Linked DNA regions of Homo sapiens. The protein of the gene in region 1 interacts with the protein of each later gene in a pairwise test. Each region holds a gene or a part of one and is shown in the gene's direction. Other genes may lie near its edges.

What was found. Proteins that work in one complex are often made in the same cells at the same time.
Region 2: the proteins of FA2H (region 1) and ARMC12 interact in binary tests that used the Homo sapiens proteins (3 or more experiments, as listed by UniProt).

Annotation. Positions count from the first base shown.
Region 1 is NC_000016.10:74,712,464-74,715,851, reverse strand, and holds the end of FA2H (fatty acid 2-hydroxylase), read left to right. Parts: intron 1-1,582; coding exon 1,583-1,662; 3' UTR 1,663-2,883; downstream 2,884-3,388. UniProt on the Homo sapiens protein: Catalyzes the hydroxylation of free fatty acids at the C-2 position to produce 2-hydroxy fatty acids, which are building blocks of sphingolipids and glycosphingolipids common in neural tissue and epidermis.
Region 2 is NC_000006.12:35,732,174-35,740,063, forward strand, and holds the start of ARMC12 (armadillo repeat-containing protein 12), read left to right. Parts: upstream 1-4,858; 5' UTR 4,859-4,935; coding exon 4,936-5,098; coding exon of another isoform or gene 5,099-5,179; intron 5,180-5,825; coding exon of another isoform or gene 5,826-5,853; coding exon 5,854-5,999; intron 6,000-6,210; coding exon 6,211-6,345; intron 6,346-7,890. UniProt on the Homo sapiens protein: Essential for male fertility and sperm mitochondrial sheath formation. Required for proper mitochondrial elongation and coiling along the flagellum during the formation of the mitochondrial sheath.

The DNA of each region.
Region 1 (3,388 bases):
AGAGCAAGGCTCTGTCTATAAAAAAAAAAAAAAAAAGAAGAAGAAGAAGAAAGTAAAGCAAGGTGATGGAATATCACATAGGTGGGGGAGGGTCCAGCGATTTCCACTGACATATTATGTGGGCCACATATGTGATTTTAAATTTTCTAGTGGCCACACTAAGACATGAAAATAAACAGATGAAAAGAATTTTAATAACATTTACTTAACATAAGCAAATTATTATTTCAACATGTAATCAACATTAAAAAATCATTAATGGCTGAGCGCAGTGGCTCAGGCCTATAATCCCAGCACTATAGGAGGCGGAGGCAGGGGATTGCTTGAAGCCAGGAGTTCCAGACCAGTCTGGGAAACATAGCAAGACCTTGTCTCTACATAAAAAAGTTTTAATTATCCATGTGTGGTGATATGCACCTGTAATCTCAGCTACCTAGAAGGCTGAGGCAAGAGGATCATTTGAGCCCAGGAGTTTGAGGCAGCAATGAGCTATGATCATGCCACTGCACCCCAGCCTGGGTGACAGAGTGAGACCCTTTTTGTAAAGTCTCTTTAAAAAAAAATAATTAGCAACTCTTATACTAAGTCTTTGAAATCTAAGGTGTATTTTGTACTTACAGCACATCTCAATTCAGATACTAAAGTTTCATTAGAAATACTAGATCCATATCTAGATTTTATAAAATTTGCAAACAGTAGTTCACATAGGTAAGTTGCTCCAAACATGCTTAAACATTTTCCGGTAACACACTTGAGGAGGCCGAGACGGGCAGATCACCTGAGGTCAGGAGTTCAAGACCAGCCTGGCCAACATGTTGAAACCCCCTCTCTACTAAAAACACAAAAAATTAGCTGGATATGGTGGTGCGCGCCTGTAATCCCAGCTACTCAGGAGGCTGAGGAAGGAGAATCTCTTGGACCCAGGAGGCGGAGCTTGCAGTGAGCCAAGATCACACCAGTGCACTCCAGCCTGAGCAACAAGAACGAAACTCCATCTCAAAAAAAAAAAAAAAAAAATTCCAGTAACTCAATCAAGCATCAGTTTTTACATTGACATGTTAATTCATCAGAATTAAATGAAGTTAGAAATTCAGTTTCTCTGGAGCTCTAGCCACATTTCTAGTGCTCAGTAGCCATGTGTGGCTAAGGGCTAGTTGGACAGCAAAGAGATTAAATGGTCCAGGTGTCATTGCAGAGGTGCCATTAGAGCTAAGACCCTAATGAAGAGAAATCAGCATCTGGCGTCCCAAGAGCGACTGGTGCAAAGCCCTGAGGCAGGAATGAACTTGGGCCCCAAGGAAGGGGAAGGAGATGGAGGTGGGGGGTGGGAGGGGGCCACGTAGCCTAGAAACGAAGGCCAGATAAGGAATTAGGGTTTATTCCAGCTTCATGCTGGGGACAATAAAAGACACAGGTTCCCCACCCTTGACTTCTGCCAGAATGGCCTCGGGAGTTGGGAAGGCCAAGGGGACAGATATTGACATTGTCTCCACCTCTTATCCCTACCCTGGCACCCTTCCCAAGCCAGCGCACGCCTGCTCCTTCAATGCCTCATCTTCTCCCCGTTTGTCTCCCTCTCTAGGATTTGGTATCAGCACTAAATTGTGGGATTACTGTTTCCACACCCTCACTCCAGAGAAACCCCACCTGAAGACGCAGTGACAACTCCCACCCCCTCCGTCCTGCCCTCAGCCCGGCCCTGGCCCCTTCCCGACCCCCACCCGCCATTCAGACCCCATTAAGAAGGTTGGCTTGGCCAGGCAGGATGGGCTGTGTCCGGCCCTGCAGCCTAGTGGAAGGTGCTGAGGGGGCCCTGAGGCAGGACCGCCCTCCTGACCCCTGGTAGGAGGGTCACATCCACTTGGTGGCCAGGTGGCCCTTGGTGACCCACTTCTTCCTGGAGCGTCCCTGCCTAGAGCTCAGCCCACAGGACTGCTTCAGGCCGTGGCCACAGGTAGCAGCCGCAAGGGGAAATGAAGAAAACTGAGCCCTCGTGGCCACCTGTGTCACCCTTGTGCCTTAGCCTCATGGGCTGCCTAGGAGCTGCCTGCACGGCACAGCTCGCTTTCACAGTCAGAAGTGGGTCTGTGGGATCTGTGGTCCCTGTCCTCCCTGCTGTCCCTTCTGGGGAGGCTTTGGTGGCTCTGAGGTGGACAAAGAGCTCTCGCAAGAAGAGACAGCGTGATGCCTCCCACAGTCCACCCCAGACCCTGGGGCAGCCCCTCTGGCCCTGCCAGCTGCCTGCGTCGTTGGGCCCAGGGTGGCTGGCAGGAGTCCCAGCTGCTTGCTTTAGGACCTGGCAGCTTTTCTTGCCGTCCCTCCCCTGCCTCCAGAATCACAGCCCTTCTCCCCAAGGGAGGCTGAGGAGGCTTCTCCACCAGTGGCAGCCCCACCCCGTCCCTGGCCATTCTTGGCCTCCACCCCGCTCAGGCCCCTACTCGGGCGCTCCCAGAAGGAGCCACCTCTCAGTGCCTCACCTCCCCCTGCCTCCCAGCCTCCGCAGATGAGGTTCCTGCCCCTTCCTCCTCGTAACCAAAACCCTCACTGCTCCCAGGACGGTCTTATTTATAAACCAGATACATGTTCTTAGTCTGGTCCCAGACCAAGGAGCTGGTCAGACGGCCCTTTCTAATCCTACATGTTGAGCTTATGTAAAAAATGTTGTTTCCTCCTGTTTTTGGTTCCTTTCTTACCCACAAACCATTACTACTTGAAACTTAAAAAACTCGCCAAGTGTAAAGGCTAAAGAGAAGCAGTTTGACGGACCTTGTGATTTGTACTGTTTGCTGCGGAGCTATTTAAAGATTTTGGAATAAATATACAAAACTACGGTTGTGAAATAAAAACTTAAATTGTATATTTTGAAAAATAAAACACTGAAAAGAAACCAACAAAAATGAGTTGTTCATCAGACTCCCTCGTGGTTGGGAAGGGGCAGTGGTGTGGGGAGGGATAGAGGGGCAGAGGATTGGTCCCCAGGGAGGGAGATTCTAGCCCTGACCAGGGTGGGTAGAATTGCTGGGGCATGGTGATGATTAAAAGCTGACCAACTCTCAGCTGGGCGCGATGGTGCATGCCTGTAATCCCAAGATTTTGGGAGGCCAAGGTGGGAGGATCGCTTGAGGCCAGATGTTCAAGACGAACCTGCCCAAAATAGCAAAACTCCATCTCTAAAAATAAAAGAAAACAAGACAAAAGAAAACAAAACAAAAGGAGAAAGCTGACTGACTCTTATTCTCTCACTCAGCTTTATTCTGTTTCTAAATTCTCTGCAGACAGCATCTCCTCTTATTGCCTGCACCTGGGATGCATTGTGCCCACAAACCACTTTGATCCGCCAATGGGGAGGGATCTCTTCTGGAGTTTATCTAACCCCAACTGAGCTTCC
Region 2 (7,890 bases), on another chromosome or scaffold:
GCGCCTTAGGCTGAGCTACCCGGAGGCCCCAGGATCTGGTTCCTGGGCAGGAGTAAGCGCTAGCTGGGGAGATGATCTCGGAGAGTGTGGGATCCACGTTAAGGCAGGGGCGGCCCCCAGCCTTTCATCTCTTGGCTTTCTGCAAGGGAAGCTCGCACGTGTTGAGCGTCCCCTGTGCACCGAAAGTACACACATTATCTCAGTCCTGACAGCGGCACTTCCAGGCAGTAGACAGGAATTCATAGACTCGCATTCTAGAGGAGGAAACAGACTCAGATTATGGAATTTGTCCAAACCCCACACTGTTGGGATGTGAATGCAAGCCTGTCGGACTGCAAAGGGCTTTTCACTGGAGTTTAGGGTAGGGTAATTTCCCCTTAGCTTCTATGCGCACAAGTGCTGGGCCGCTGCAGCGTCACCCTCGGGAATGGCGGTGTCTTTTCGTAGAGGACCCCCAACAGTATCTGTCTGGAGCTTCTGTCATTAACTAGGCTTAAACAACCATTGCCAGGATACTGGTAAAGAGAATGAGGAAGGGGCCTTAGGATTCCACAGGTAGTTGGATGGTTCTTAGGAACACAGTTTAGGGGAATGTGTTGCAGGGCTCCTGTTCCTCATTTAGGTATTTGTGGGGGCTTCAAAGATGGCTCCAGAGTCACTCAAAGCAGTTACATGGATTACAGGAGTTGGGATTGATTGACTTTAAGAAGACCAGGGAGGCCTGGTGTGGTGGCGTAAGCCTGTAATCCCAGCACTTTGAGAGGCCGAGGCAGGCGGATCACCTGAGTGTAGGAGTTCGAGACCAGCCTGGCCGAAATCGTGAAATCCAGCCTACTGAAAATACAAAAATTAGCCGGGCGTGGTGGTGCGTGCCTGTAGTTCCAGCAACTTGGTAAACTGAGGCACAAGACTTGCTTGAACCTGGGAGGCGGAGGTTGCAGTGAGCCGAGATGGCGCCACTGCACTCCAGCCCGGGTGACAGAGCCAGACTCCGTCTCAAAAAAGAGAGAGAGAGAAAAAATAAAAAAGACGACCAGCGTGAGAGGTAGTGGGTAAGTGGAAGGAAGGGCTGACTCATGTGCTTTTCAGGCTGGGATGCTTCGAGGGCTACCATCTGTGTTCTCACTGCCTGCCCACGCCCCACATGTTGTCCAGGTGAAACCTGCGGAGATAATTAGGATTATAGTAAACATTTGTTGAGCTCTGTGTGTTGGGCACTGTTCCAAGTGCTTTACTTAATCCTCACAAACAATCCCATGAAGTAAGTCTTATTGTTTCTATTTTACAGGTGGGGAAAATGAGGCACAAGGAGATCACAAAGCTAAGTCCATGACTAAACTGGTTTGTTTGTTTTGAGATGGAGTCTTGCTCTGTCACCAGGCTGGAGTGCAGTCGTGCCATCTCGGTTCACTGCAACCTCCGCCTCCCGGGTTCAAGCAATTTTGCCTCAGCCTCCTGAGTAGCTGGGATTACAGATGCACACCACCACGTCCAGCTAATTTTTGTATTTTTTAGTAGAGACGGGGTTTCCCCATGTTGGCCAGGCTGGCCACTCTGACCTTGTGATCTGCCCGTCTGGGCCTCCCAAAGTACTGGGTTTACAGGCGTGAGCCACCGCGCCCAGCCCTGAACTGGTTTTGAACCCTGCCTAGAACCCATACTTACTTACTAAACTCAAATGTACTTAACACGATGAGAACATCGGCCTTGAAGGTAAAAATGCTGGCATAGATGGCAAAGAGGTGTGTGCTTGGGCAGCTCATGTCCTTTTCCTGGGTAAGGCAGGTAGTAACTCACAGCTGGCTGTGTGTATTTTGGCTCTCAGACTTCTTTTTAACCAGTGGTTCCAGATTTCTGGATTTGACAGAAAAACAAAGCCAGAAAACAAGTGAAAGCCAGGTTCCCATAAAGAGTTGCAGCTTTAAATTTACGCTCCCTAAGGGCATGGAGAACATACCTACGATCTATTATCACCATCATTAAAGAAAATACTTCTGTTTCTTTGAGACAGGGTCTGGCTCTGTCACCCAGGCTGGAGTGCAGTGGCATGATCTCGGCTCACTGCAACCTCTGCCTCCCAGGTTCAGGCAATCCTACCGCCTCAGCCTCCAGAATAGCTGGGACTACAGGCACGCACCACCATGCTGAGCTAATTTTTGTATTTTTTGTTGGGGGTTGGCGGGGTTTGCTTCAGCCCAGGCCAGGCTCGAACTCCTGGGCTCAAGCAATCCACTCGCCTCAGCCTCCCAAAGTGCTGAGACTGCAAGTGTGAGCTACCACGCCTGACCTAAGAAAATACATTTTAATTCTCAAAATAGGAGTGACATCATCTGAATCTGTTAGTTCCAGCCAGGCGCGGTGGCTCGTGCCTATAATTCCAGCCCTTTGGGAGGCCGAGGCAGGCGGATCATGAGCTCAGGTGTTCGAGACCAGACTGGGCAACATGGCAAAACCCTGTCTCTACCAAAAATACAAAAAATTAGCCTGGTGTGGTGGCGCATGCCTGTAGTCCCAGCTACTTGGGAGGCTGAGGCGAGAGGATTGCTTGAGTCTGGGAGGCAGAGATTGCAGTGAGCCAACATCGCACCACTGCGCTCCAACCTGGGTGACAGAGTGAGAACCTGTCTCAAAAAAAAGAAAAAAAAAAAAGAAAGAAAACAATTATTCCCAAGAAAAGATGGTCAATGGACTTTATGCCAACAAATAGACATTCCTTTGTCTTTAATTTTTTTGTTGTACTGTGGACTAGTAAAAATGTCACTCTAGGAATGACTCTGCCTCTAATCTCTCTGAATCATTTGAAGGCAGAACCAGAAGAAATGGGCCTTAGGTGTGGCAGGAGGGAGTTAGGTTGCAGCCAAGAAAGAACACTTTTTGGAGGTCTTTAAAGAACAGGTGAGCCTTACCTGTGCTTAGGAAGTGAGGGTTGCAGAATCGGCTCCATGGGATGGAGGGGCCAGTAACTCTGGGTCCCACCCTGGAGAAGGGCAGAGCAAGGACCTTGTCTTGAGGGATTTATTCTCAGATCCACCAAAGTAGCCTGGGAACCTAAATGACAGTTCCCATCAGGCAGCCGTTTTCTGCTCGGAGTTCAGTGGAGATGCGATGGGGTTGCATGGCAGTGGGGAGGCTTCCATGGGCTTCTACTCACCCCTCACCACAGGGAGTTCATGTAGTCACCCACCTTGGGGCTAAATAGAGTGCCAGGAATGATGACCCTTGAGGAGGGCTGAGGACAGGAATAGAATGGCCACCCAGGAGTGTTGCTTGTTCCCTGCCTGCTGCCTAGGGTGTACTGGGCCAAGGCTCTGAGTGGGCAGGCCTGGCTGGCCGCAGCATCATTGGAGATGCTGTTTCCCTACCTCCTTCCATCCTGGGTGCAGCCCAGGACCCAGAGCCTTCTGTCCCAGTTCTCCCAAAAAGGGATCAGGGCCAGGTAGGTGAACACCTGTTCTGGTGCAGCATGCTCAGCACTGGCTGTGGGCGTGGCCCTAGTTTGGAGCTGGCCACTTGCCTGTTCTGCAACAGAGAGTGGGGACAGAAGTTGCGGGGAGACCCTGGTGGGGAAGAGGGAAGGGTCTGGTCTCACCTGCCCCATCCTAGTGGTGGGGATCAAGACCTCCACAGGTGGGCTCACATCCTCTGGGGTGGTGGCATCTTCTGACTCCAGAGGACCTCACAAGCCGCCTCATATCCCTGGGGAGGCTGAGAGGTGATACTTCCAAATTTAGCTGAAAGGCACAGACTTACCCACATTTTAATCCTGGAGTTTTAGAATGGTAAATCCGAATCCCTTTAGGTTACAAATGCAGAAACAGACTAAGGCAAAGGCGATCCCTTTCTCCTCCAAGGTCACTCTGGTTAGAAGGGTCTGGAGCCCCAGTTACTAGATGCTGTCATTGTTCTGCCGCCAAGTCCTTAAAGAATGGCAGAACATGACTTAAACCACCTGCTAAGTACAAGATTCTATGCTGGAGATGCAAAGGTAGCTGTCCTCAAGAGCACTTTGTCAAACAGGTAAACTTCAGGGCAACATGCAGATGCTGGAAAAGGGTGGATTTGCCTCAAGAGTCTGTGCATGCTTTCTAAGATACTCCCCTCCTTTTCATCCTCTGATGCGGGGAGGGAACCCTACCTGAAGAAACACCCCAAGGCCCAGGGGTAGATCTAGGGTGGAGAGATCACATATGGGAGGGCCCGGAAAGAAAAGGAACAGGGTTGTCAATGGGCATACCCCAAACACCTCACCCAGAAATGCCCTAAGGCCCCAGCCCGGAAATGGACCTCTGCTGCCCTCTAATGGTGGAAAGGCAGCCTCTGGAGCTACCTGCTGGGGTCCCCCCTTAAAGAAGAGGAGATGTGAAGGACACTTCTGCCCTCTCCCCTTTTATTCCCCTTCTGTCTTATGCTTCATCTCCTGTGGTCTCTAAAGCAGAACCTTCTCTTTTTTTTTTTGAAATGGAGTCTTGCTCTGTCGCTTAGGTTGGAGTACAGTGGCGTGTCAGCTCACTGCAACCTCAACCTCCCAGGCTTAAGCGATTCTCCTGCCTCAGTCCCCTGAGTAGCTGGGATTACATGTGTGCGCCACAATGCCTGGCTAATTTTTTTGTATTTTTAATAGAGACAAGGTTTCACCATATTGGCCAGGCTGGTCTCGAACTGCTGACCTCAAGTGATCTGCCTGCCTTGGCCTCCCAAAGTGCTGGGATTACAAGTGTGGGCCATGGTGCCTGGCCCCATCTGTTCTCGAGCACTCCTGGCTGCCCCATTTCCTGACCACTGCCCTCCATCCCATTATCTCCCCAGTTTCCTTTGTTGCCTAGGTTCCAATTCTGGTACCCTGGTTCCTGACCCTGCCAGAGTTCTGGTTCCGGAAGGCCCCCCACAGGTGCCTTGGGCCTAGCTCTCACCTGGGCCCAGGGCAACACTGAAGACATGGGCAAGAGCATCCCCCAATACCTGGGGCAACTGGACATCCGCAAAAGCGTAGTCAGCCTGGCCACAGGCGCCGGGGCGATCTACCTGCTCTACAAGGCCATCAAGGCTGGCATAAAATGCAAACCACCCCTCTGTAGCAACTCACCCATCTGCATCGCCCGTGAGTGTCCGGGCCCTGGGGAGAGGGCTCTGCCCCAGGAGGCACCTGCTCCCGAGGCCTCTGCTGTGGGAGGGCCCAAAGGTGATGCCTCCAAGTTCCTCTTTCCTTTGTCTTTCTCTTGTCCATCTTCCTCAAGCCCACCCTGCAGCGTCCTAGGCAAGGCCCTGCCAGAGATGCTAGCTCAGGGTCCCTGGATCTCACTCAAGTGGATCCTCAGACTCATCTGGCAGGTCTCCAAATACTACATTTCCTCTGGCTCCCAGGATTCCACTTCTTGGAAACTTGGTGTCGGCAGCTCCCCCCATCCCTTTTCTGCCCTAGGAACGTGAGGCTTTAAGGAAAGGGAAGATTGGAGGACTTACTATATGCCCAGAGCTTCCACTAGTCCACATGTTCTTTTGTGCAGAGTAGGAAAATGAGCCCCTTCTGCAAGACTCTTTATTGCCATCTGCTGGAATATCATTGCCACATACTGGTTATGATGAAATACTACTTGTTACCGCCATATGCCAGACAGTTGTTAGAGTAAATGGACAAATCTATGATGGTACGTTATGGACAATACAACATTAGATAGGGTGCCCTTGTGCAGTAAACATTCGTTCAACTGTACATGGTGGTCCTGCATATGGCGAGAAGGCTTCTCCGAAAAGGCAAGGCAGCCTTGTCCCCAAGTCCCTGTCCCCTACTTCCCAACCCCATTCTTTCATCACTTCTGAGTCCACAGCCTGAACTGGGCTGGGGTGGCTGTCTAGGCCTGGCAGTCGAGCGAGAGCGGCACGGGCGGGACTCAGGTGAGCTCCGGAGGCTCCTCAACTCTTTGGAGTGCAAACAGGATGAGTATGCCAAGAGCATGATCCTGCACAGTATCACTCGCTGTGTGTACTTGCTGGAGGCTGAGGTAAGGGAAGCAGGAGGTCCCCCCTAGCCGGCCTGGCCCCTGGGGGTTACGGCCGATCCCTGCCCCTGGAATGGCCAGACTATATCCTGGGACCTCTCTCTGGCTGATAGCGGTGGGGGGGGGGTGTGCGGAGGGATCTTGGTGACATGGGGGGCAGTGGGCCCAGAACACCCGCTTCTCCTGCCTCTTCCATCTCTCCCCAATACTCCAGGCCTCTGCTTGTACTACGGATGACATCGTGTTGCTGGGCTACATGCTGGATGACAAGGACAACAGTGTCAAAACCCAAGCTCTGAATACACTTAAAGCTTTCTCTGGCATCAGAAAATTCAGGCTCAAAATCCAGGTGAGCCCAGGGATGCGTGGTGGGGCATGCAGGATGTCTATAGTCCTTAAGTCCTTTAATTGCCATAGGATAAATGGTCATGTTCCAGAAGTTTGTTTGGGTGTGAATTTGTAACCCAGAAATAAGTGGGAAAACGGTGGTCAGATTCCCAGCAGGGTCATGAAGGCCTTTGAATTTCAGGATGAAACTGAATTGAGGCACTAGTGGTATCTCTCAACCCCAAAGAGAAGGACCCCCACTACCCCACAAGCTCCCTACCACTGCCACGTTTTTTCTGACACCAATTCCCAACACTGGCTGGGTGTTCAACAATTCAATTCAGTTCAGACACTATCCATAGTTAGGGCAGACTTCACAGGTTAAGGGCTGAGTCCCCCAAGACTTCCCCCCGACTTCAGGTACCAATCATAGGTCTGACTTCTGACTGGCCCGCTATGAATTCGGGGGTTCCCACAACTCCCTTTTTAGATCTACTAATTTGCTAGAATGGCTCCCAGAACTCAGGAAAGGACTTTACTTACTATTACTGGTTTTTTATATAAAGGACACAACTCAGGAACAGCTAAACGGAGGAGACACATAGGGCAGGGTGTCAGGGCGCGGAGCTTCCAGGCCTGTTCCTGGACCAAACTGAGGGCTGGGCTGCTATTGCTCCTGGCCCAATAACGAGATGCAGATGAACTGGGGAGGAAGAGAGTTTTTATTTCTGTAACCGGTTACAGGGAGAAGGCCAGGAAATTATCGCTGGACCAACTCAAAATTACAAAGTTTTTCAGAACTTATATACCTTCTAAGCTATATGTCTATGTGTAAATGTGCATTCATCTAAAGACGTGATTAACTTCTTTTAATTTATAACTAAGGTCTGAGTCCTGAAGACCTTCCACTGGAGCCTCAGTAAATTTACTTAATCTAAATGGGTCCAGGTGCTGGGGTGATTACCCTTATTTTGTCTCTTGCTAAATCAAGGAGTTTTGAGGAATTCCTTCAGATCCCAATAAACTTGTTTGTGGAGACCTGTGGCGTTTCTTCAGATCCACAGTAAAACTTGTTTAATCCTAAATGGGTCCCATTAAGAATTCCTTCGTAATTTTGTCATGCTTTAAGGCCCAGGAAAGGCCTAGGCAAAACTCCTGGTGGGCTTTTGTTACATTCCAGCCTTTGTATAAGGGCACTGGCTTTTAACATTTAACTTAACCACGCAGTCAGTACTGAAACAGTTGTTATGGAGGCCTGCCACAAGCTCACTTCAGGAGTGCCCTGCTGTTCCCAGCACCTCCACACGTTCAGCAACCAGGAAGCTCTTTGAACCCCATTGGTCAGAGGTTTTTATTATGTAGTCTTGATGAATTAAATCATGTCCAGCTGCTCACCCCTCCCCAGAAGTTGGGAGCAAAACTGAAAATCCCAACCTTCTAATCATGCTTTGGTCTTTCTGGCAACCAGAAGCTATCCAAGGACCCTGCCTGGAGTCACTTCATTAGCATAAGCTCTGTTGTGACCAAAAAGGGTTGGTTTGCAGTAACAAAGGACACTGCTGTCACT